Regions from separate parts of the Homo sapiens genome. Here all the other regions are reported to be linked to region 1. Evidence: microRNA targets listed by miRTarBase, many of them from high-throughput screens and not tested one by one. Region 1 holds a microRNA gene; each other region holds the end of a gene's coding sequence.
What was found. Region 1 holds the annotated microRNA hsa-miR-8485 (CACACACACACACACACGUAU, at 2,709-2,729, opposite strand). A microRNA usually pairs through its seed, bases 2 to 8, with sites in the 3' UTR of a target mRNA and lowers its output. Matches are read on the target gene's strand: a 7mer-m8 pairs with bases 2 to 8, a 7mer-A1 pairs with bases 2 to 7 and ends in A, and an 8mer does both.

Region 2: miRTarBase lists AMMECR1 as a target of hsa-miR-8485. Seed matches in the 3' UTR shown: 7mer-m8 at 1,888-1,894, 7mer-m8 at 1,886-1,892, 7mer-m8 at 1,884-1,890, 7mer-m8 at 1,876-1,882, 7mer-m8 at 1,080-1,086, 7mer-m8 at 1,078-1,084 and 2 more.
Region 3: the mRNA of FLVCR2 is a reported target of hsa-miR-8485. Seed matches in the 3' UTR shown: 7mer-m8 at 1,075-1,081, 7mer-m8 at 1,660-1,666, 7mer-m8 at 1,662-1,668, 7mer-m8 at 1,674-1,680, 7mer-m8 at 1,676-1,682, 7mer-m8 at 1,678-1,684 and 3 more.
Region 4: miRTarBase lists BRD10 as a target of hsa-miR-8485. Seed matches in the 3' UTR shown: 7mer-m8 at 517-523, 7mer-m8 at 519-525, 7mer-m8 at 521-527, 7mer-m8 at 523-529, 7mer-m8 at 525-531, 7mer-m8 at 527-533 and 12 more.
Region 5: the mRNA of ST8SIA4 is a reported target of hsa-miR-8485. Seed matches in the 3' UTR shown: 7mer-m8 at 2,568-2,574, 7mer-m8 at 2,570-2,576, 7mer-m8 at 2,572-2,578, 7mer-m8 at 2,574-2,580, 7mer-m8 at 2,576-2,582 and 7mer-m8 at 2,578-2,584.

The regions. Positions count from the first base shown.
Region 1 is chr2:50,693,464-50,697,615 of GRCh38, forward strand. MIR8485 (microRNA 8485) reads right to left here and starts at 2,799; the gene lies at 2,709-2,799. All of the region lies in intron 5 of NRXN1 (neurexin 1), which reads right to left.
Region 2 is chrX:110,195,130-110,199,129 of GRCh38, forward strand. It overlaps AMMECR1 (AMMECR nuclear protein 1), which reads right to left. Exons shown (of 6, transcript NM_015365.3): 6 at 1-3,505. The coding sequence ends at 3,391. Among named protein-coding and RNA genes, the nearest start is that of SNORD96B, 28 kb to the right of the region's middle.
Region 3 is chr14:75,646,211-75,650,210 of GRCh38, forward strand. It overlaps FLVCR2 (FLVCR choline and putative heme transporter 2), which reads left to right. Exons shown (of 10, transcript NM_017791.3): 10 at 191-1,957. The coding sequence ends at 262. It overlaps ERG28 (ergosterol biosynthesis 28 homolog), which reads right to left. Exons shown (of 5, transcript NM_007176.4): 5 at 3,581-4,000. Among named protein-coding and RNA genes, the nearest start is that of ERG28, 13 kb to the right of the region's middle. RefSeq lists an enhancer at 2,136-2,430.
Region 4 is chr9:5,916,101-5,920,100 of GRCh38, reverse strand. BRD10 (bromodomain containing 10) reads left to right here. Exons shown (of 8, transcript NM_001017969.3): 8 at 1-1,079. The coding sequence ends at 417. Among named protein-coding and RNA genes, the nearest start is that of MLANA, 27 kb to the right of the region's middle.
Region 5 is chr5:100,808,543-100,812,542 of GRCh38, reverse strand. It overlaps ST8SIA4 (ST8 alpha-N-acetyl-neuraminide alpha-2,8-sialyltransferase 4), which reads left to right. Exons shown (of 5, transcript NM_005668.6): 5 at 414-4,000. The coding sequence ends at 696. Among named protein-coding and RNA genes, the nearest start is that of MIR548P, 6.0 kb to the left of the region's middle.

The DNA.
Region 1 (4,152 bases):
TAGGGACTTTTGGACTTCCTCCTGCCTACAATTGCGTGCAAAGGTCAAATAAACTGGCAAGGAACAAAATGTGAGACCACAAATGCAAAAATGGCACAACTGCACTACTGAAATAAATACGTTGAATCAATGAACTCTGATATTTCTGCATTAAAATGCAGCTTGCAACCACTAACTGCAAAGGAAAATATGAAGGGAAAATAAAGAGATGGTAACTAGGACCTAATATCTATATTACTAACTCAACTTCAGAAAGTTGGTATATTTTCAAAATTGCAGATATGTCTGCAACCTAAAGTATACTTCATAGCATTTAATTAATTAATTAATTTTGAAGTTTATTTTAGAGGCAGAATCTCACTCTGTTGTCCAGGCTGAAGTGCAGTGGTGCAACCGTAGCTTATTGCAGCCTGAAACTCCTGGCATCATGTCCCCCTTTTACCTCAGCCTCCTGAGTATCTGGAACTATAGGTATCCACTACCATGGTCGGCTAATTGTTTTTATTTTTTGTAGAAATAGGGTCTTCCTATGCTGTCCAGGATGGTCTCAAACTCCCGGCCTCAAGGGATTCTCTTGCCTTGGCCTGCCAAAGCACTGGGATTATAAGTGTGAGCTACCACGTCCAGCCCATAGCATTTTATTTTGAGGTTTAGGGACTAACGTGTGTATGATTTAGCAAGTGATGTTTAATGGCATTTTAAAATAATGGGTACCAAATAGAAACGTATGAATTGTTACTTGAATATAATTAAACTTTGTAAATTAATGGATTAGACTAGAAAGAAAAGATTCCAGAAATTTGAGGGGAAAAGGTAGGTTCTAGCACTGTCTCTTACATTTACATATTCTGTCTGTTTGGGCATGTTATTTTATCTTTTTGCATCGGTTTCCCTCTTAATGTATGGGTGAATATATAATAGTTGGAATTAAACCATAAATCAGTCAACTTCTAAGCTGTATACTATAAAAAACATTTGATGTAAATAATAAAACTCCTTGGAATCTGTCCCTCTTTGTGTCTCCATAACCTTCTATATTTGTTAGTTGAAATAATTATTTCTAAGTCTGAGGATTGTCCATTCAAGGTTGAACACTCAAGAAAACTGATTTATCTCTGTTCATCTCTACAAAGTCAGAATCGAAGAAGCATCATATCCTTTGGTTAAATTCAAGGTAGGGAAAAGAAAATCAAACCAATTCTACCAAAGAACAAATCAATTGATTTGATTATGAGTAGGTGGAGGTTACATTCTTTATCTTACTGAATTTGAGGTAAAATCGGTTAATCCTTTTATCCCCAATATTCATATTTAATCCAGAAAATGCTCTCTGGAACAAAAGTAATCATTACAAAATAAAGGCTTTATTCTACATTTTAGCAATAGTCTTTCCTTGGCTTATAAAAAATTAATTGCGGGGTATTCTCTTGATTGGGTACTTTAGATCCTGGTGACTGTTCTAACTGATGGGGCTGAAAGACAGTTCCCTTATCTCATAGCCAAATCACCTCCATGCAAATTGATCTGGGAGTGCCTTTAGAATAAACACAGCTGGATTCTCTGCAGCCATTTATGGGTCCAGTTTCCTAGGCTTAATTTTGATTTATAACTACTGAAATTAAATTAGCCATCTTCACTGCTTAAGGGTGGCTTTGATTTCACCAGTGCAGTAGGGAGACTATTTACCAACATATTTTATCAGTAACATTTCAACCTGGGTAAGGGGGTGGCGGTGGGGGGAAGGCATCTTATCTTTGGTATTTGTACTTGAGATTCCTTCAGAATATTTTAATTGTATTATTTACCGACAAATGTGAGGATTAGATTGTCAAATCAGACTCACATGAATTAAAGATCTTGCCCAGCATCAAGCTTTGCTAAATAATTTCAAGGATATAAGCTATCAAGTTCAGATAAGGTGCATCATATAACATAAAGTGGTGTACCTTATGTCATATGCTCCAGGTAGCCCTGCCTCATAGATCCTGGGTTCTATTAACTATGGGTAATCCCTTAGCCAGAGACATCTTGCTAGGGACAGAGATATAGTCTCTTATTCATAGTAAGTAACATTAGTCTATTTCCATTTGACAAAGAGATTAGACTAAGTCTTTGCTTTCCTCTAGGAGCACAAATTATTGTACAAAACGAGAAACAAAATTTGAGAGATTAAAATATGTGAAATATGTTAATAGTTCTAAGAAGGCTTTTATCTAGAACACGGTAATAAATGTCGACGTGCTATAGTAGGAAGAGTTGAAGATAAATGGTTAGATATCGCTTTTTATCCATATGACTTTGTGCATTAGTTTTTTGAGCCTCAGTTTTACTAATATTCCAAAGGATTAGGGAAATAAGCCTAACCAGAGTGACTCTGATTTTTTTTTTTTTTTTTTTGAGATGGAGCTTCGCTCTTTCACTCAGGCTGGAGTGCAGTGGCACAATCTTGGCTCACTGCAACCTCTGCCCTCCAGCTTCAAGCGATTCTTCTGTCTCAGCCTCCCAAGCAGCTGGGATTACAGGCGCCCACCACCATGCTTGGCTAATTTTTGTATTTTTAGCAGAGATGGGGTTTCACCATGTTGGGCAGGCTGGTCTTGAACTCCTGACCTCAGGTGATCCATCCGCCTCAGCCTCCGAAAGTGCTAGGATTACAGGCAAGAGCCACCACACCCAGTCGACTATGGAAATTTTAAAAGACAGTACATATACGTGTGTGTGTGTGTGTGTGTGTGTGTGTGTGTGTGTGTATGTATACACATATGCTATATACACACACACACACACGTATATCACAGAACTGAAGACCATAAAATGTTCTATACATATGAAAAAATGAGAATTTGAAATGTACATAATTCTTCACACAGATAGCTGACAGTGTTATAAATCTCCTTTCTTATAAATAAGAAAAACAGTCTCAGAAGTAAGTAATATTCTGATGGAGAGTTAGAAAAGAAAACCTGTCTTACAACTCTTTAAACATGCTTCTCCTCTAAGCTAAATCATAGTTTGCTAAAGAAGGTCGTGATAAGGTAGAAGAAAGACAAGAAAAGCCAAGGCAATGGGGTGAAGCAGGCGGAGAAAACTGTTTATGCCTCTTCTTCCAATGTCTATTTATTTTCTTTGTGGTTCTGAGCAACTATTTCTTCTTTTATCTTGCAACTGTCAAAGCAGCTCTCTGTAGAGAAACCAGCAAGCACACCCATTAAAACCAAAGCATGAATTTTCGGGTGAGGATCAGTGAGGCTCTCTTAAGAATACCTGAATTTTCACAGAGATAAACATATTTATTTGATTTAAATGGTAGAAAGTGTTAATTACTAAGTTTCATATACTACCAGGAGTCATAGAGAAGTCATTTTGGAGACCAAGAGTATATTCCTAGACCATGTAATCACATCATTTGAGTAGCTGCTTACTGAGTTTATTCACAATGAAAGCCTGATACATAAATTCTTTAAACAGAAACCAGTGGCATTGTTAATTTCCACTTTTGTTTCCAAATTGTTGCTTTTGTCTCATTGAGAGCATATTACTTACTTCAAGCACCTTAACAAACAAAGCTGGGTCATACACAAACGTCCTACTGTACCAGCAATAAGACAATATGAATACCCTGCAACCTCTCAACAACCAGAAGACAAAGATGTATTTGGAAGGGGCAGATGGGAAGTGAAAAAGAGAAATAAAATATACTTTACAGGGAATATTTTGCACACGTAATTCTGAGTGTTATATTTTTAGCTTGTATAAATAAACTTCATTAGTCTTCATTTTGAATATACAGGAAAAGTTTTTTTAGAAAAGACTCATTGTCACAAGCTGATAAGGTAAGTTAGGACAGTATATGATTAATATGCTACAATGATGTCTAAGAGAGAGGATGCTCATTAAATTTGTGTGTGACAAAAGTTGGAAAGAGTGTTAAGACCTTGAAATACTGGAGCATCTTTCAAAGTGAAACTTGACAAGTTAGAGAAATGGTCAGATAGAGAAATGGATTTTAATCAGACTGAAAGGAAAATTAATGTATTGGTTTTGTCAGTTGTACCTTCATCTTGAACGTAATGACTGCCTGTTACTTCCTCTGTGGTTTCATCCGAACCTAACGCGACACTCCCCTGAAAGGTCTCCTCTCTCCCTTCCTTG
Region 2 (4,000 bases), not on the chromosome of region 1:
ATGACAGTTTCAAATTTCCTGCACATTTGAAGACAAGATAAGAGGCCAGTATACAAACTTCCGGTGTGCTGGGCACTGGGACTGTATGTGCTGGACTGAAAATCTTACAACTGCTTTAAGCTTTAAGGGTGAGGGGAAGCAAGCCTTGCACTTCCTCCATCAATTTCACTGACCTCTCGTGTTAGGGGAGACTACAGAGGGTAGTAGCACATTCTCGTGCAGTCAGAAGGCCACTTGAGGGGTGGGGGACAATTTGTTCTTTTAGAATCTGGTACCTGGCTGACCTTGTTTAAGAACAAGAAAACCCTTCCAGAAATGGAAGCCTTTTGCTACATACCAAAGCAAAGTACGTACTATTTCCAAGAGGAAAAATACCCAGTTGCATCTGAAAATGGAAAACTTAAATGGAACGAATTAACATTTAAAAGGGGCTATGTAAACTTTGTGCTACTCAAATGAAGTTCAAGTATTACTTCTGAGCTGTTTAAAGATCACTGAACTCATACAATATTCTGATGATAAGAGTGCAATTCACATTTGTGTTTCTGAACAAATAAATCACAACTGGCTAGAACACAACCTGTGCAATCAGAATCTTCGTCTGAGTTAAAGACATGCTACATATTTCAACATGTTCAAAGTTAATTCATACCACATAATTAACAGCTTTGTATATACGACAAAGGTGAAAGGGTCTAGCATTTGTTTGAAGCACACCATTACAGTTTGTATAACACCCTTTACACTACAAAGTCTTTTAGTCAAAAGCTACTTAGAGACAAAAATGCACTTTGCATTACTTGAATACAAAAGGAGACAAAACTATCCTTTTCCCCCAAGCCATGTTGGGAAATATTGCTGACCTCGTCCTTTGAAGCCTGCAGGATGGTTATTTCTTCAGTTTAACGTTATTACACTGCTAAGAAAATCTGTATAACATCTGCATATATCAAGGATTTTAAAAAATCTGATATGATTTTAGAGTCCGCATGACCAGTCACGTGACCTGCTCAAGATTGATTAGCACCGTTAAATAAACACACATATATGTATGTATGTATGTGTAAGTATATGTACACACACACATCTATGTATGTAATAAATCTTTGCTAAAAAAACTTCTAACCATAAGCTCACCCAGGACGAGGAGCCTGTTGAACCGATGAGATGATGGATAAGATGGATTTCACGATAATATTGGTCTATTTTGTCTCTCTTCAGTTTGCTTGTTTTATTTACCTTTTTTTCCTTTTTTTTGTTTTTTGTTTTGTTTTTTTTTTGTTTGTTTTTTTTTGCAGCAGACAATATCATTCAGCTTGTGCTCAGTTTCCCTATAAGGGTAAGAAAAGTTTCCATCAGGTAGCCACTTGTTTTTATACTGAAAGACTAATCTGCTCCAAAATGCTCCCAAGTAGAAATGACAGGACTCAAAATCCCTTTCTAAAGCCCAACAGCTAACTTTTTCTGACTAATCTCTAGCTTCATTGAAACTGGCTACCAAGATTGCATTTCAGGCTAACAATTGGCTTCTTAGTTAAGGCATCACAACTGAAAATGGTTATTTCAACAATGGATGCTGTGGATGAAGGAATACCAACAAACTTCTAAGAACTCTCATCAAAAACTAAAGCAATTTGCTTTGCCCCAGTGGCAGGCAGAAGGAATTTAGCCCATTATCTCACAAACTAGGAAAGGATTTTTGAATTCTGAACTAGCAGTCTGTCACTTGTCACAGTAACTATATGTATAAGCTGTATCATTTTGATATTCAGTGACTTTTTTGTAGTTTTAGAATATATATTCTGCAGCATACTTTAATTCATCACTTGATATGTTGGCTTCCTATTTGAAAAAATTATATATATTTTTCCAAAGACACACAGACACACACACATAACCATAAAATGAAGGTCATCTTCCTCCAGAATAATCTGTCATTTTTCCTGGGGATATATGTATGGACCTCCTATCGACATCAGTAAGTTATCTTTGTATGCATCATGGGAAGACTATACTTGCAGATGAGCTGGGCTCTAACTATAGCATATCTGAATGCCAACTCCATTTTCACAGGTGTGACATAACATCTTATCAATGTAGTAAATGTGTTTCTATCAAAAGTATGTAGTGCAGAAAGAAATTCAAGCTATTTTATAGTATCTCTAAAACTCTAATATTGTCCCCATGACAAACATATCTGAAATCATGGCAAATATGAACTTTTGTTTTACTAAATTATCTTTACCATATCTTTAGATGGTAGCTAAAATGGATTCTAGCCAATCATGACTTATTGAAACCTAGAGCTAACAAATTTAAATTAATATAAAATAGACAAATGTCTCTTATTGGTTATTTGCTCAAAATAATTTTTTTTCAGCTTAAAAAAATACTTAAGAGTAAGGAATTTGTCTAATCTTCTGTTTCACATATAGAAACAATAAAGTTTTACAAGAATATTTTTCTAAATTGCCTTTTTTCTAACCCCTCTTAATTCCACTTAATTATATTCTTCTCAAAGGCACTAAATTCTGTATCTGCTCTCTTCCTAATATTTGCTGCTCATAAAATGTTTCCTGTAGCCTTTTTGAAAGGTAGTTTGTACCTTCTCCAAACAGTGTTTTAGTTTGCAAATTGGTTCTATAAAGTGGTGAGGCAGTCTCTTCTATGATAACCAGCACAATAGGGATAAATGATTTCTCTCTCTCTGTGACAAGCCCTATCACGGACCTTTGAATGCTCACTACTAGAACTAAAGTTCATGTATTTTCACCATGGGAAAAACATATACTTAAGGAGTGAAGACCCAACTACTAGGCTGTCATAGCAAAGTGAATTTCAGACAAAAATCAAGAGTAATATACAAATACCTGAATTTGATATGAATTAATCCCAAACTCAGGTATCAAAAAACAACTATCTTACTGAGGAAAACTAAAGACGAACCTAAGTAAAATCCCTAAAAACTGCACACTTTCTTCCATCCACAGTCAAAGGAAGGGAGGCAGGGAAGGAAGAAGGAAAACGGGAAGGAAGAAGGAAAACAGGAAGCAAAACGGGAAGAAAGGCAAGGAGGACAGAAAAACAGAAACCTGACTGAGACAGCAAAGCAAAATTCTACATAATATTATAAGGAAAAAAAAACCCAAAATTATATATGCTGCAAAAAAAAAATCAACGATCTAAAATAATAAAACAGGATCTTAACAAATGCCATTTTTCTACCCGTTACCATGATGATCTTAGTTGACGATGTCGAAGCTTCACCATGGCAACGGAAACTATCATCATAAAATGGTACAGTAAAAGAGATAGCTAGACCAAGAAGGTGTAGGGTCTCCTGGGAAGAGGTCTGCAGAGAGGCCCAGTGACTGGTTGTGCGGCTCAGTGTCAGGAATAATGGTTGTATGGCGGAAGGGGATGCCCAATGCCATTTTGGAAATGATGATGCTGGCGATGAGCAAGGTATTCAGCATAGCTCAGGGTCATCTTTTCACTACGATACCTGAAAGAAAGTCAGGGAAGAGAAAAGTTAACATTGAGAAGTAGGTGACATGCCATTGTCACTGCTAGGAAGGACCTTAAAGATAATTTTATAGATCAGGAAACGGGGTCCCAGAGAGAAGCAGTGACTGCCCAAGGTCACAGAGATAGTAAGTAGCAAAGCTAAGATCAGAACTTGGAAATCAAAAGTCTGAGTCCAGTGCTCTTTGCACTCTACTACTCCTTGTTTAAATTGTTCTTTTAAAAATTTTATTGTCCCCTCAGCCCCAGTTTTCTAACAGGAGTATGCATCTCATTCGATTCAGTTGATTATTTTTCTTCAGAAATCTTCCACCTCTCCCTCTTTTACTGTTCCTTTCTCTGTCCACACATCTACTTAGGTCTTACCATTAAGTAACAACAACAAAAACAACTTTTCTTAATTCTGGTATCCTGAACTCTCACTTTTCCCCATGTCTGGCTTTCTTTTCATTGCCACATTTCTCAAATAGTTGTG
Region 3 (4,000 bases), not on the chromosome of region 1:
GTGTTTGTGGGTGCATTTATGGCAGGGGCTGGTTGCTTCTTTTCTTGTTCTCTTTCTTGGCTCTCTGGGATGCTGAGTGGCCCCCGGCTCTTGTATTCCCCACTGATTAGTCATGGCCAGGCAGCTGCTCCAGCCAGGGTGGAGTGCTGTGCCTTTACCCACAGCACTGCCTGTTTGTTTTGCTTTATAGAAACTCCAAGAGGAGGAGGAGGAGAGCAACACCAGCAAAGTGCCCACTGCTGTGTCAGAGGATCATCTCTGAGAGGAAGGTGGTGACAACTCAGGGAACACGAACACCCCACCTTTTCCTTCAGCACAGCTCTCACCGCCAGCACAAAGGGCTTCGCTAGAGATGTTTTTGGAGGGAATCAGTGGGACTATTTGTGGCATGGATGGCCTATTCCTCCTAGAACCCACGTAAGAGCTTGGATGATTTAGTTGGAGAAAATTGCACCTATCACCAAATGCAAATTTGATTCCCACCTCCACCCCCTTTTAGGTTATGGGAGTTGGTGTTGGGACAGGGTGGCAGAGAATATTGGAGTCAATCCTAGCTTGGTCTCTTGCCTTCCCTCTTTTCCTCCATCCATCGTGGACAATGCCTGCAAAATTTTCACAGGAAGAAAGCCTATTCAGGATATTAACTTGAAATTTCCAGTGTCCTAAGAGCCTCTCATGAAGCCCAGTTCTAATAAGTGGCAAGCTGCTCTGCCGGGGTCATCTCCTGGGTCATCGGACTGATTGCTCAAGTTCTGCAGGAGAGGAAGCACCATTAGAACAACTCCATCAGAACAGCTCCACCGGGACTTGTGGGCCTAAATTTTCCTGGCCTAACGGGTCTGTCTCCAAACCCTCTTTCCTAAGAGCTGAGCAAACCAACCATAATAAACTTGACAAAAGACTTTGTTGTGGCCATGACAGAGATACCGACTCAGGAGGGCTACCTACCTAGGTGTGATCATGCTGGGGGCTACCTTCTGAGTATATTTGTGAAAGCACATATTTGGGAACTCTGGTAGCTTGAGTTGGGAATGGGAAGGTTCTTTTTTACAGAAGTACTTCCCCAGGGACTTCTGTGTGTCACAGTCACCTCTGATGCCTTTATCTTGATGTTGCATTGGGAATCTCAGCCATCAGCCCAAGTGCTTGTTTTATTCCAAGGCAGGGTAATCCCCGTCAACTTACTCTAACCTTTGCTGAAAACTAATCTTGATTCATTCTACTCTGAAAATCCAAAGGTGCTTCTGAGAGATAAGAGGGAAGGGGTAGAAGGAAAGGTGCCCCTTGAAATGGGAATTGAGCCTGTTAGAATTAAAAGCTTATCTCACCTCTGCTGGGGACAGTATTTGCACCACCAACCCCTCTCCTCACCTGCTTTGAGCGATAATCTTTATCAGATATTCTAAACTTAAAGGGATTCCCTTTAAACCAACTCAAGCTGATCTTTCCTATCTAGCCTGCTGTTTGGCTGTACTCATGGGCTTTGGTAATATCTCCTAAAAATGAGGTTTTGGTAATTTTTCCTATGCATTGGGCAACTGTGATCGTGACCACTGTGCTGTCTTGCTCCAGCCACTGCCCTGGCCTCAGCATATCAGGGCAGCCTGTGCTGGCTGCAATACTGTGGTGCTTGGGCCACTGCCTGAGAGGAGCCAGGTTTGTGTGTGTCTGCATGTGTGTGTGTGTGTGTTTGTACAGATTCAAGCAATGGATGCAAGGAACATGCTGTATGTAATAGAAGAAAGAAGTCCACGTTTTCGGCAGAAGTAGTGAGTCAGTGTGGAAGAGAGGTGAGGGTGTGCTTTACTTTTTGATAAAGAGAAAGATGTTTACTCATAAACCCTTCAAAAGGTATTAACAAAATGTTTACCAAACCTATTGCTTTATTTTAAAAACATAATTTGTGTTTTCTATTTGTAAGATCTGACATTTCGAGGCAATAAAAACTTCTCAGAAAGTGGTCTGCCTTATCATTCAGTGGGGCAGAGATGGCTCTTAGAAGTCCCTGCAAGACTGTCACACATTCCTGAGGCTCCTGTCTTAGGTGTGGGGAAGGGCTGGGCTGGGGCGGGGGAGTGTGAGGCTAGAGAAGCAGCAACTGTGGTCTTCCACAGGAGCATCTCACTGTTGCCAGACCTTACCATCTGGGAGGGATATTTTTTAAAGACAAGGCTGTAAAGGTTACTGTTTGCCTACATGGAGGGACTGCAACTCAACATCCAGCACGACCCTGACCTCTTTCCATGCTGTGTACGCGCTGGAATGTGAGTGACTGCTGATGAGAGAGTCCACTGTTGTTTCTGGCTCTGCCTCAAAGGGTGGTTGAAATGTTTGTTCTCTGATTACCTCAGCCATGCATCAGCTTGCTGTGGCTGGGGCCCATGGCTCAGTCCCAGCAGCTGCAGTCTTGCGTTACCATTTTTCTTCCTAACTGGCCAACGTCCTGTTACTCATCCCTCCCCAGTTGTGATCACCTTGTGCGTGTTACTTGAATATGCTGCTACTATCATCTGTGTTCTGTACATTCTTTCCATAGAGAGTTGTACTGTGCCTGTGGTATTCTAGCATCATATTTATAGCAACTCGTAGCTGGGGAGGAACAATATTATGATTCTATTTTAAATGATCTAGGAAGGGACCCAAGCCTGGGCTGTTAAGAAATCTAATATCCATAGTGTCTGCTAAATACTCTAACTGTACATCTCTTTAGATCCTTTGGGTCCCTGCCTTTACTAATCTGGAATCACTTTTTTTTTTTTTTTTTTTTTTGAGATGGTGTCTTTTTCTGTCGCCAGGCTGGAGTGCAATGGCGCAATCTCGGCTCACTGCAACCTCCGCCTTCCTGGTTCAAGCAATTCTCCTGTCTCAGCCTCCCAAGTAGCTGGGACTACAGGCACACGCCACCATGCCCAGCTAATTTTTGTACTTTTAGTAGAGACGGGGTTTCACCATGTTGGCCAGGATGGTCTCGATCTTTTGACCTCATGATCTGCCCGTGTCAGCCTCCCAAAAGTGCTGGGATTACAGGCGTGAGCCACCACACCCGGCCAGGGCATCACATTTTCATGACACATGCTCAGAGGACCTAAATCATCCAATGTTTTCATTCACTCCTTTCATAAGGTCTTCATGTGGATCTGTGTTCAAACATTAACTGTCATCACTGCTTTTTTACTGCCTCCTAACAATATAGCTGACAAGTAAAGAAAAGATAGTTCTTACCATTGAGATATTTTTCTAGATACAGTGTTCTGGGCATATGAGGCCTGGAATTTCTGCAACCAACTTTGGTACCATAAAAGAAGTCAGCCTGAGGATGCCAGCACACATAGGTAGTGCTGAAAGAATCGTAAAGAAATGGAGCTGGAGTCTTGATCAAACCCTTCCTGAAGCTAATCTTGTAATTTTTCAGTTATATGAGCCAGCTATCTTTATTGTTTAAGCTAGTTTAAGGTAGGTTTTGTCCTTTCACCTAAAGAGACTTAACTGATAAGAGAATTCCCAATGTATTTAAGTGTAAACATCAAGCTTCTTATCACACCCTTATAAGCCCCTTGCCTCCTTTTCTGACCTTTTCTTTCACTTCCTAACTCTTCACCATGCTGTGATTACATAGTTCTTATTCCTTGAATAAGACTATTCTACCTTCCAGTTGCTGCTCCCTCCTTTCTAACGGCCTGCTCCATATCTTAAGACATTTAACTCCTGGGCATTCAAGTCTCAGCTCAAATCCCACCTCTTAGCCTGGACAACATAGTAAGACCCCATCTCTTCCCACCCCCAAAAATGTTAGCTGGATGTGGTGGTACACACTTGTAGTCCCAGCTACTTGGGAAGCTGATGCAGGAGGATCACTTGAGCCCAGGAAGTTGAGGCTGCAGTGAGGTGTGATTGTGCCACTGCACTCCAGCCTGGGTGACAGAGTGAAACCCTGTCTCTAAAAAACAAAAAAATCCCATCTCCTCAGGGAGGACTTTCTGATGATCTAATTTAAGTTACG
Region 4 (4,000 bases), not on the chromosome of region 1:
TTTATAAACTCTTTTGGGAATGCAAGTTCTATACCCACAGTACATACATCACCACAACTCATAAACACAACTGCTAAGGTTCCTGTTCCACCTCCTGTACCAACAGTATCACTGACTTCAGTAATTAAGTCTCCAGCTACTCTTTTGGCTAAGACATCTTTGGTTTCTGCCATTTGCCCCAGTAATCCTCCACTGCCAAGTAGCACTTCAGTGTTTCATTTGGACCCACCTGTCAAAAAATTGTTGGTTAGCCCAGAAGGAGCCATTTTGAATACCATAAATACTCCAGCATCTAAGGTTTCTTCACTCTCTCCATCTCTCTCTCAGATTGTTGTATCTGCCAGTCGAAGTCCTGCGTCTGTCTTCCCTGCTTTTCAGTCGTCGGGCTTAGAGAAGCCTGACAGAGCTGCATCTTGAATTTAGACTAAAAGAGCCAGTTTTTAAATAATGGGGCATTGTTTTGACTCCCATAAAAATTTTCAATGTTTATTATACTGTTGAAAGCATACTATACATTGTGTGTGTGTGTGTGTGTGTGTGTGTGTGTGTGTGTGTGTTTTAATGTATCTTTTCATTAGCTTGCAACAAGGCTTTGTTTTCTTGGGGAGGGAAAGATCTGTTCCATTTCACTTACTGTTCTGAGGAGGGTTTCAAGGTTCTGTGTTTAAAGTCAGGATTTACCTGTCTGTAGAACATAAAGTGAACAAAGTTTGAATAGTTTAGAGTAAGCTAGCCTTTTGCACATTTACATTGACATGTTTCTTCTTGAATTTGGACTGTTGCAGCATATCTATGATATGGTATTCAGTGTCATTAGTGAAATCTTATTTTTGTTTCTGTAAAAAAAAAAATACATATATATATTTATGCATTGTGAAAAATGCAGTCCATGATGTAAAATTGTACATATTCCAGAATCCCTAACAACCTGTACTAAATATATGTACAAAGAACTATGCTGTCTTATTTATGTTTTGTTTACATAATGTATAGTTTTTTAAGTATTTTAGTAATTTTGGACCAGTGAACTGTTAGCAACAATGCAGAAGAATCTGCATGTAATAAACTGAGTTGCTGTATTTCTTTGTTTGAATACCATTTTTAACGTGTGTTCTTGTTCCATTGAAAGAATACAGGATGTAATTGAAGACAGTCCTTTACAAGAAAGAATTAAGGGTGGGAAATTTGAATTAGAGCTAGCACTTGTACATGGCTTTCCAGCTTACAAATACTACTTTCACTTAAATCTTGTGTTTCAGAAAATGCCTTTTTTTTTTTTTTTTTTGACTCACCTGTTGCCCAGGCTCGAGTGTAGTGGTGCAGTCTCAGCTCACTGCAACCTCCACCTCCTGAGCTCAAGCCATCCTCCCACCTCAGCCCCCCAAGTATTAGGTTGGTGTGTAAGTAATTGTGGTTTTTTTGCCACTAATGCCACTAATGGCAAAAAAAAAAAAAAAAGCCACTAACGGCAAAAAACCACAATTACTTTCTCACTAACCTAATAGCTGGGACTACGGGCATGGGCCACCATGCCTAATTTTTTAATTTTTTGTAGAGATGGTTTCACCATGTTGCTAGGCTGGTCTTGAACTCCTGGTCTCAAGAGATCCACCTACCTTGGCCTCCCAAAGTGCTGGTATTACAGGCATGAGCCACCGCACCCAAGAATATGCCTCGTTTTAAATAAAAGGTAGCTTTTATATTTATTGGATCTTTATATCCATTATCTTGAGCTACTGAACTGTATACTCATCCTTCCATTTATAATGTTGTTAAACTTCATCACATGAAGTTATTGTTGGGGGTTGGAAATGATATGGAAGCATAGGCCTAAAGATTTCCTTTGAGACTACATCAAAGTGTATTTGTTATCAAAGTGGAGAGGGTAGTGAAAATATTCCTAGAAAGTCACTAAAGGCTCTCAGAAACCGCTATTTATGCTCTAAGTACTTTTCCTAGTCATGTTTATGCTCTACTCAAGTCACTCTCCCCGTTTTTCTGTCAGTTAAGAAAGCCCTGGGGAAGTGGGTGATATTTCAAGTGCATTGCATTGCGCATTGATGGTGCTCAACAAATGGCTGTATTTACCTACTCAGCTTTTAAAACAAAATGACCCAAAACTGTTTGCCTTTTGTCTCAGAAGAATTCTCTTAAGCCATTTTAAGAAACTAATTTACTGAATTACCTATGGCCCAACTTTAATCCCAGTGAAGGACCTAAACTAACCACTAAATCTCTCTCTTTTTTTTGAGACGGGGTCTTCTCTGTTGTCCAGGCTGGAGTGCCATGGTGCTATCTCAGCTCACTGCAACCTCTGCCTCCTGGATTCAAGCAATTCTCCCACCTCAGCCTCCTGAGTAGCTGGGATTACAGGTGTGCACCACCATAGCCCAGATAATTTTTGTATTTTTAGTAGAGATGGGGTTTCACCATATTGGTCAGGCTGGTCTCGAACTCCTGACCTCAGGTGATCCGCCCACCTCAGGTGATCTGCCCACCTTGGCCTCCCAAAGTGCTGGGATTATAGGTGTGAGCCACTGCACCCAGCCACTAAATCTCTTCTAACTCCTAAATCCAAAATTCTAATATGACCTTCATAGCTCTGTGTGATCTGGTGAACCTTCGTACTGAAGTCCCCACTTAAAGTTTTAAAAGCTCTTCAGTCTGTTCCTGCCTACCTCTCCAGCTTCATTTCAACCTGTTCTCCCTCTTGTTCACTGTACTCTAATTTTCTTTTAGTTTCTAGAAAATTCAAGACACTTGAAGGTCTTCCCAGATGTCTTCTTTGACCTAATGTTCCATTACAGGTTCTTATTACGTGTTATGTAACTCCCTGTCCTTGTCATACCTCAGCCAGCATTATTATATTGTGCAGTCACTCAGACTGAGAACAACATAGCACTTCTTCAAAACTATAATTACTTGTTTGAAATTATTTAATTTCAGGAACCTTATCAATCATCATCATTATTGTGCCAGCACCTGGCACACTGTATTCAATGTATATTTGTTGAGTAGGTGGGTGACAAATCTAGATAACCTCTTATTTAAGGTCTAGTTTACTTTTTAAAACTAATGCTCCATTTTTTAAACTAGAAATTCGATTAATGGATTTATATCTTCAAAAACCCAAATTCCTTTGCCTCCAGTTTTGTAGGTCATGTGGATTTCTGAGATCGTGGCTAGAGCACAAAGTTAAATTCCTGAATTCATTGTGTTTAGTGTTATTAAGGGTTCTGTAAAGGGCGTCTATAAAGGCATACATGAAAAGGAAGAAACGTCACCACAATGCCACCTGAAAAGATTCATGATACTGGAGAGTCATGTTTTTATACTTAGTATAGAATTAAGCCATTTGGATATCTGTGTTCTGTATCACCTAAAATACTAAGTTAAAAGATGCTGAAATAGCCTGCCTCCTTCTGGTGTGTTAGCACTTCCCTTTCCTCTCATTTCCTATGGTTTTTCCTGCCCTCACAAAAAGTTTTTCCTTTGTGATTAGTTTTATATATATGTTATATATGTTTTATATATGTTTTATATATAGTGATTAGTTTTATATATACATATATATACACACATATGTATATATACACATACATATATATACACACATACATGTGTAATACTAAATAGCTGAAGTCCTGCTCAAGTCCCAAGTCTCCAATTTTATTGGTGTATTTAATAATTAATTGAAATAGTTTTATGATTAAAGTAGTGATAGCTAGAATATGTACACTAAAATCAGTGGAAATGTTTGCTTGATCCAGTAGATCAACCTAAATTTAGAATTTTTTAACATTAAAAGCTTGAGAAAGTGGCAAATTCTGAAAGAGATCTAAGAAATTTGATAGGGATTTTAGTTAGCCAAAGTTACTAAAACTTAGAAATGATAAACAGTTTACCTGAAGTCATTCCAGAAGTAGTTTTGCCATCATCTGAGCTTATTGGCTTATTGTTACTATAATGTTGTCATCTGCCCCAGTTATTCTTACACATT
Region 5 (4,000 bases), not on the chromosome of region 1:
CTATAGGCATAGTTTCAAACTTTTTTTTCTGGGAGGATTACTTAATCTCTACCCAATTACCATGACTTCTGCAGTTGTATTTAATCCTTTTTGAGAAAATTTTACTCTGCATGTTATATAAATGTTTGCTATTATTCATTTCAAAGGTGAGATTCTAGAGTAATATTCACCTACATTCCAGGTCCCTTGGGTATTTATATGACCTCAAGAATAAGAAAGAAAATAAAGGATAAAGAAGAAATAAAATAAAAGCATCAAATTTTCTAAATGCTTAAAAATATTTCTTCAGTAATTCTTTAAAATATTATTCATAAAGATACCTTTTAAGTTTTCTGCATTATATACTTGCTATAGGATATGCTCTATGTGTGTCTAAATTCTTCTCTTCTTGATTTTGTTTTTTGTTTTTCCAGTTACTGGCTGACCAACAAAGTTCCTATCAAAAGACCCAGCACAGGTCTTCTCATGTATACACTTGCCACAAGATTCTGTGATGAAATTCACCTGTATGGATTCTGGCCCTTCCCTAAGGATTTAAATGGAAAAGCGGTCAAATATCATTATTATGATGACTTAAAATATAGGTACTTTTCCAATGCAAGCCCTCACAGAATGCCATTAGAATTCAAAACATTAAATGTGCTACATAATAGAGGAGCTCTAAAACTGACAACAGGAAAGTGTGTAAAGCAATAAAGCACATTTTGAAACAAACAATATGCACTTCTTTTCTGAAGATGCTTCCGAAGATTTGAAAATAGGATCCAAAACACGGCTGGGTTTCAGCATCCACCAATGAACTGAAAGGTGAATAAAGGACGTTCATGAGAAATCGACTACCAGCTGATGAAATACCTGCAAAGTGCTCTAAAAATTAAATATTTTGACTTTAAGGGTCCTAGTAAGTGCCACTTCCACTAAGAATACAGTTTGAATGTATAATCAGTAGTGTTTACAAGATCCAACAGTGCACTCATCATTAGTTAACAAAGCAAATATGTTCATCACTGTCAGGCTGCCCACAGCAACACCAAGCATATTAGAAGAGGAACCCCAGGAACGCAACTCAGACCTTGGGAAATTAAACCATCCTTGTCAGCAGAAGCCAAGATGGAAGCAGTTTGAGCAATGAAATCCGTAAGATTAAACAACTCAAGTAAATGCTTCAGTCAGGACTCTGAGTCTGATCATGAATTTTATGTTTTAATTTATGTTTTTTTTTTGTCTTCTGGAATCTCTTTTGGTTTGGATATTGGGATGCTTAGAAATCCTTTCTGAGATGCATATGAGTGAGGAAATAAACTTTAAGTAATTATTTTTAAAGTTCTTATACTTTTTAAAAGCTATCACACAAAGACTTTTTTTTTTTTTTTTGTCTCGCTCTGTTGCCCAGGCTGGAGTACAGTGGCGCGATCTCAGCTCACTGCAAGCTCCGCCTCCCAAGTTCACTCCATTCTCCTGCCTCAGCCTCCGGAGTAGCTGGGACTGCAGGCGCCTGCCACCACGCCTGGCTAATTTTTTGTATTTTTAGTGGAGACGGATTTTCACCGTGTTAGCCAGGATGGTCTCAATCTCCTGACCTCGTGATCCACCCGCCTTGGCCTCCCAAAGTGCTGGGATTACAGGCGTGAGCCACCGTGCCTGGCCGACATTTTTAAAAAAGTTTTATTTTGCACGGCTCTAAACCTCCATGTTATTTTCCAGTGGTGTAGAAGGTACCAGCTAAAGTGAACCACTATGTAATATTAGGCCATTCTAAAGGAAAGATGTTCCATGTCATCAGAGATGGTAAAATAGGCCGGGAAAAAAAAATCTTTGGTACCAAAGATTACACTTGTGTTTCTACACAGCAAACCATTTTTCTTTCATGAAAATAATATATTATTAACATGAATATATTATTTTGCTATTAATGTGAAAGTTGTCTCTAAATATTTTTTAATTTTCAAACTCATACTTTATTTTCATTTGAAATGTTTTTCACACCTTTTGCATTACATAATAATTTTGTGGAAGCATTTTGCCCTTTAGAATAAATATTAGATTGATATAGCTGAAATGTGACTTCCAGTTCTTTGATATTCCCCTTGTTATTCAAATAGAAATATGGAAATGCTTTATATATTACTGTTAAATTTCTTAGTGCAGAAATAACATTATTAATAGAGTATTGTTTTCAAAACAGAGATGATTAATTTCAAGAGGTTTAACAGTGAAATTGTGTCAATATTTTGCATTTAAAATGAATTTAATTGACCGATATTTTCTGTAGTTAAATTTAGTCACAATATCACATATGTTCTTCAAGAAACACATGAAATTATTAATAAAGTAATTAAAAAATTTTTAATGTATAACAGAATTGACCAATAGGCCAGTTTTCTGGTAACTTATGATAGTAGATTGTTTCTTTAGAAACTGGGCAGAAGCTCTGCATTCTCACTTGTACTTTGATTTCTTATTTCTTGGGCAGGCAATTTGAGGAAAGAAGAAATGGCATGGGGAATATATATGTTTTGTTTCTTAGGGAAAACAGTCTGAGAAATGAATAAAAAGCATGAAGTACGTGTGTGTGTGTGTGTGTTACCATGGAAAAGGATATTCACAGTAGTACAGTTCTCAATATTTTTAATTAGATGTCATATTTTTTTAATATAGTAAAACCTTGGGATATAGAATATTACATCTTTTGAGAATGTATGTGTCTCTAAGTAAGTAAAATCTAATGCGTATAGGAGACTGATAGCTAAAAATGAATGGAACATTAATGTACTTTTATAATTAAACCTCTTATCTATCAGAAATTGTAAGAGAATAGATACATGTTTTGAATGTAAAGTTGAAAAGTCTGGTTTACTTAATAAATTGAAAGTGATTTATAAAATCTAAATTTGGACTACTTGCAAATGATAAGCTATTCTAGTAGCCTTTAGTTTAAATCCAACAGAAATCTAGAAGTCACAAGCAAATATCTTAAAGGTAAAATCCATCTGGGCACTCATTTAAAGTATATCTTAAAAAAGCAGCAGCAAGGTACCTTGCCATTTTTAGCATATTTTCTTCCTTTTTCTTTTTTCTTTTTTTTTTTTTTTTGAGATGGAGTCTCACTCTGTCACACAGGCTGGAATGCAGTGATGCCATCTCAGCTCACTGCAACCTCCACCTCCTGGGTTCAAGTGATTCTCGTGCCTCAGCCTCCCAAGTAGCTGGGGTTACAGGCGCCCACCACCACACTCGGCTAATTTTGTGTTTTTAGTAGAGACAAAGTTTCACCATGTTGGCCAGGCTGGTCTTGAACTTCCTGACCTCAGGTTATCCACCCACCTCAGCCTCCCAAAGTGCTGGGATTACAGGTGTGAGCCACCGCAGCCGGACCATTTTTAGTATATTTTCAGTAAATACATTTAAACAATGTTAAGGCCACAGCACACATATCTCAGCCATTCATTGTTCTGTGCATTGATGTTTATCTCATAGATGCATTGAGTAGTGCCTTTTTAGCTTTTTCACATTACTTTGTCACCATATCCTTTGTGTTCTCTAAATACATTGCCCACTTCCAAAAATGTTCAGCATGAAAAAAAGGGCTTCAGTGTCGATTGAGATTGCTTTTGTTCATCTCAGGGATTTCAATAGTCAAGAATGAATTCAGTTAAAGGTATTTAGGGTTCAAAGAAGACAAACTGTACAAGCCCATTTCATTCCTTGTTGTATACCTTTCCATCTGCCCTCCCATTTTAACTATCTACTGTGGCCTTTTTATGGAAACAGAGCAAGATCAATGAAGGCTAATGGCAAGAATAAGAAAAAGAGTTGAGATTTAACCAATAGCGGAGCATAAAGGATCATGACAAAATCAAATTATAAAAGCATACTTGAAATAGGTGGAGCTTTTTCTTTTGAAAATATATATTCACAATTTTAATATTTTAATTTATTTTTTACTATTTAACCCTGTACTTGGCAATGCTCAGGCAGCTGATTGTGAAATATTCTTGTC